Regions from separate parts of the Homo sapiens genome. Here region 1 is linked to region 2. A link means that fine-mapping ties the variant in region 2 to the expression of a gene that starts in the linked region. Tissue or cell type: tibial nerve. Region 2 holds a variant in brackets; the other region holds the start of a gene. All regions are shown on one strand. Distances are from middle to middle.

Evidence for each region. PIP is the estimated chance that this variant, and not a neighbour inherited with it, causes the effect.
Region 1: DLEU1 starts here. The variant in region 2 is fine-mapped to the expression of DLEU1 in tibial nerve (GTEx, PIP 0.96).

What each region holds. Positions count from the first base shown.
Region 1 is chr13:50,080,689-50,083,368 of GRCh38, reverse strand. It overlaps DLEU1 (deleted in lymphocytic leukemia 1), which reads right to left and starts at 1,200. Exons shown (of 7, transcript NR_109974.1): 1 at 812-1,200; 2 at 175-227. All of the region lies in intron 1 of DLEU2 (deleted in lymphocytic leukemia 2), which reads left to right. RefSeq lists an enhancer at 276-1,071 and silencers at 1,229-1,278, 1,679-1,898, 1,762-2,056.
Region 2 is chr13:50,713,451-50,716,130 of GRCh38, reverse strand. It overlaps a transcript of DLEU7 not described here. Among named protein-coding and RNA genes, the nearest start is that of DLEU7-AS1, 93 kb to the left of the region's middle. The variant G/A (reference allele first, on the strand shown) is at 1,119.

The DNA of each region.
Region 1 (2,680 bases), 630 kb after region 2:
GCGGAGGCTGCAGTGAGCCGAGATCGCGCCACTGCACTCCAGCCTGGCGACAGAGCGAGGCTCCGTCTCAAAAAAAAAAAAAAATTACAACTTTATTATCGTTAATTGTCCTATCAGAGTGCCCATTTTTTTTGAAGGTAGACAGGTTTGCCTAGATATGGTGCTTCTACTTACCAGTTCTAAGACTTTGGGGCAGATTTCTTAATCTGAACCTCAGGTGTCCTCATCTGTAAAGTGAAGATAATACCTACTTCATAAGGCTGTTGTGAGCAATAAACACGATTAATTCGTAAATCATTTATTTAGCACAGTGCCCAGCACACAGTACACAGTCAATACGTGGTAGCTGTCAGTATACCAACGTGTTGCACAACAGAAACTCGTCTTTGCTGGATTCAGTTCACTTATCACGCCATTAAAAAAAAAAATCATCCTAAGTGACACAGAAAAACTGCCCATTCCTATCTCAAAAAGTTTATGAACAAGTTAAGACGGTAAGAGAAACTGAATTCAATGAAAGCGCCTTCGCAACAGGCAGCTTAGGACCGGGAAGAAGGGCTTCAGCAAACTTAATCATTAACTCTAGGCAGGCGCGCGCGCACACACACACACACCGTTGAAGAAGGAGACCACGCCTCCTGTGTGGGCTCAGGTTGAATCGTACAGCGTGGTAGAGAACTCCAGGGCTGCTGAATCTGACAGATGTGGATTCATCCACTTCTGTGCCACCTGTGCTGTCTTGGGCAAATTACTTAACGTCTCTGAGCCTAGGTTTCCTGGTCTTCAAAACGAGAACAGTAATAGTTCCTACCTGGTAAAGTTGTTCCGAGGCTTAAGTGCGATAACCCCTGTAAAGCGCTGGAGAACGGCAAAAGCTCTACAAGCCGGCAGGGCGGTTTTAAATGCACGTGTATCCATATACAAGGTCTCATTGATACATTCCGTTGTTTGGAGTTTAGACACTGGCTGTAAGACGTTTTTCTTTTCTCCTAAGCAGGACCCGTATTTGTTTACCTCCAACGTAGACTAAATGCCTGTGGGCTGGTAGCTATAAGACGACCCCTCGGCCCCACAACCTCTAAGTTCACTTCACCTCCGCGGCTTTGCAAAAGCGCTACACGCACGCGCAAGAAGCAAGAGGACTGCAACCGAAGAAGCAAAGGGAGAGCCGTGCACCACGATGATTCTGCGCATGTGCCTGGCGGGAGGAGGGGGGAGGGTTGGAGTTTGCGCATGCGTAAAAATGTCGGGAAAGCAAGAGAAGGGGGGTTAAGAGGCGGTATTGACAGCTGTGGAGGCAGCCCGCGTTCCCGGCATTCCCTGGGGCGGCGGGGTTGGCTCTAACGAATTTGAATGAGGAGCCTCAGCGCTTTCGGCGCCATTTTCGAGTGATGCCTGATCTCATCAATCTAGCGGGAGAGACAGGATAACCTGTCCGAGAGTATAGCGCCACTATGACTCCGCCGGAAAAATTACTTTAAAAATCGCCAAAAATTACTTGGAGCAAAGGGCAGTCGGCGGAGCTTCGCCAAGGCTGGCGCAGTCGGTAAGAGCCTGAAGAAGTAGCAGAGCGGGACTCGGGAGGTGGCAGTGGTGGGACCCGCAGGCAGTGGTGGGTGCAGGGAGTGGGCGCGGGGTCTACTCTCACTTAATCGCGAAAAATCCGAGGAAGTAGGGTTAGGGGCAACTTGGGCGTCTGCGAGTGGGCGGCGGCGGGCGGAATGTGGCGGGAGCGCGGAGAGACGGGGCTGTGGGGGGAGGGGAGCTGCAGTTTGAGCGGGACGCGGACCGGCTGCGGCGGAGCAGCCGCCGCCCAGCGGATCTGTCAGCAAGACCCCCCGCCCGGGACCGGAGCCGGGGACGGCGCACTGCGGGGTCTCTGCAGGCGGCCGCTCCTTGACAGGAGGACTGGACGCGCGCCCCTCCCCCATTTCCGAACCGGGCCGCCTTTTCTCGCCGTTTTCTCGACCCGGTGATGGCCGTCATCTCGTGACAAGAAACTTAAGGTCGACAGAAAATTCAGGACCCGGAGTCATGGGTCCCTCCGGTGGGTCGTGGCAACAGTCCCCCCCGCCACCGCCCGGCACCCATCTATCTATATTGTCTTTTGACGCTGAAGCGTGAGGTGCCCCAGGAAAGAGTTTCCCAAGCCCTGGCTGCCCTCCCCCGGCGCGCTGGGTCCCGGTGAGGTCTCTAGGTAGGTAGGACTGGCCGCGGCTCGCGCTTCCAAGATGGGGCAGGGGCAGGCTTTTGAGGTTGTAGCGGGCTCTTAGGAAAGATGCTGGACTTTAGCTTCTTTCTGGGGATTTTTGTCATTTGCTCTCGCAGCGTTGTCCTTTCTCAAAGGGGAGGAGTGTTCACGGGTGAGATGAAAGATGGGGCTTCGAGCTAACGATTTCCTTCTCGTGGCTATTTCCTCCGAGTCGCACTTTCTTAGAAGACTTTTTTCTTCTCCGGTGTTTGAAACATGTCGCAAGGAAAAAAGCAATCTGTGAAACTATTAATGTTTTCCTCCCCCAAAAGTCTTTACCCGGACAACTTAACGGTAATTTTGCGATCCCCACCTTTTCTTGACGCTGAGGAGGAGGGACGAGAGTTGTTATTTGTCTTTCCCTTCGGTGATTTTTTTTTTCCCCCTTAGCTGGTGGTTTCTATCAATTCTTACTCCACAGCTCTTGAG
Region 2 (2,680 bases):
ACTTGTTTCCTTATTTGGTGATAAAATCCTAGGTTGATCTAACATTTATGCCACCTTTCAGTTACTAACAAATACTTTGTGTTTTGAGATCTTGAAGGTCCAGTTCAGTCTAACATCAAAGCTTCCTGTGTCCCCAGCCCAGACCTGCCTCAGCAGGGTGTGGAGGGGAAGCAGTGCATGGCCAGGTGGCAGGGAGCTGCAGGGTAGCAGCAAGGTGTGCCAGGGCATGACAGCCAAACTTACCTTTCTGCTACTCTTCTTTGGCTCTTCTGCTGCCTTTGGGTCCTCCCACATCAGAACAGCAGTAGGGAGGAAAGGCAAGGTTGTGATTTGGTAGCATTATCTGGCATAGACGTTGTCTGAAGGCCGATGATTTTCTCAAGTGGAATCTTCGGAGTTTTTCCGAAACACCTCCACTAGGGAGCTGCCATTGTAGCTTCCTAACACACGTCTCCTCCAGCTATGACTTCCCCTCCTCCATCTCCGACTTCTTCCTGCTGGGGTTCCTTGTGTCTCCTGTTGGTTCCTCCTTTTGAGTGGAGCCCCATTCTCGGCTGATAGCCCAGTTCCGTTCCCTGAGTCCTCCAGGGCAACATCCCCTTTGCTGCGCCATCGGCGGAAGTGCGACTTCTCCAGCTCTCGCCCCCTTTCTCCTTTAGCTGCCACCGGCTGCTCTGTCTAGCTTCTCACCTGCTGGCTTTTCAGGTACTAATCTCTATGTGGTAGGCTGAATAAGGCCCCCACCAAAGATGTCCTTTTCCTAATCCCCAGAACCTGTGAATAGCTTACATTACACGGCAACAGGGACTTTGCAGATGTGGTTAAGGTAACAGATTTTTAGATGAGGGGATTATCCTGGATTATCGGGTAGGCTCAAAATAATTACATGATCCTTTAAAAGCAGAGAACATTTCCCGACGAAAGTCAGAGAGATGAGGCCTCGTGAGAAGGATTCCACACACTCACACTCTCGCTGGCTCTGAGATGTAGGTGCCCTTGTGCAAGAATCAGAGAGAGGCTGCAAGGAGCCAGTGGCAGTTCCCGCCGACAGCCCGCAGGGAAGCAGGGACCTCAGTCCATCAGGCAAATTGAACTGAATTCCGCCAACAAGGCGCAGA[G/A]GCCTGGAAACAGATGCTTCATTAGAGCCTCTAGGAGGGAGTACAGCCTGGCCAACACCTTGATTTCAGCCCTGTGAGGCTTGAAGCCCACACACCAGCCGCGCCCACTGGACTTCTAACCTACAGAACTGTGAGGTAGTAATTTTGCTATTTTTAAGCTGTTAAATGTGTGCTAATTTGTTTCAGCAGCAATAGACACTAATACATTCTATGTTCCCCAAAGCCTAGGGGTCCTAGGTCAGCTCTCCAAGTAATTCTCTGAAGGCCCCCTCTTATTTGCGTAAGATGAGGGGAAAACACATGAGAAGGGAGGAGGAAGCATTTTAGCAGCCTGAAAGCTCTGTCTCATGAAATCCTTGCCGTCCTCATTAATTTACAAGTCTCCCCTTGCGTAGCTAAGATTTGAGCGATGGTTTCAGGGTTATTGGACCATTTTTTTGGTCACTCCTTAGCAGATGACATCTCCTGAGAATAGATGAGCATTTTTAACAATATTTTTTTTTCTCAGCTCAAAGATGTCAGCTAGCACTGAGAAAACAGGAAAAGTCTCATTTTAATATCCTGTTACTTAAAGGTATTCACAGAATGGCTTACCGTTTTAGGTTTAACATTCTAATGATATGCCAGATGGACTGGGGTTGCTCGGAAAAAGCTGGGTGACAGGAGAAGGAGTTGAGATCCCAGAAAGAGAATTCACCACTAGGGTGGGAAGACAGACAGGTCAGAAAATAGCCACGTTGCCCAAGACCGGAATTAATGTGGATGAAACAACGCTTCTAGCCCTAGACCTCAGGCATGGCGGGATCCAAGGCAGAGGTGAGAAGGGAGTTTGTGTTCAGTGGCTCACCAGTAAGCAGGACTCTTATGCCTTCCTACAATGATCCTGCAAGAATGGAATAAACTGAGACTACATAGCTTGAGTATGTGCAATAGTTGACCACTTCCTTTCTGTGTTTTGTGGTTTCACAACTTGAGTTTCCAACAGAGCATGGGAGTGAGGGGAGTCAGAGACAGAGCAGCAGTTCTGTAACACAGCCGACAGTCTTCATGAGGGTAGGGGCAAGGCCCTACTGCCCGGTCCGGGAGGCCACATGCGGGCAGAGTCTGGGTCGTTTTCACATCTGCGGAATGATGTGTGTCTGAGGAGGGAGGCAGGTGGGAGACAACTTCCTTACAGTCCCCATCCCGTGTTGCTGCCTTTAATGAGCTTTTAGGAGGCATGATTTCATAGCCTAGTTTATTTTATAATCAAGCCCAGCTTCCTCTGTTAGACCAATCAGTACCTATTAACTGAATGCCTACCGTATGCAGGCTTATGACGCCAGGAACAAATACGTCCATGATGCTGTTGCTGTTTAGGAATTGTAAGATCATGGATAGAACCCCTTTCCTGTCAAGAGCTCACTTTTTCCATAGAGTGAAGGGCAGCTGTAAGGTTATTTCTAGAATTCTATTTTCCTTCCCTTCTCATTTCAGGAAGAAGAAGATGAACATAAAATACAAAGAAAAAGATTAATATAAAGTATAAAGATAGCTATAGAGAAGTCTTCTTCCTGGGTTGT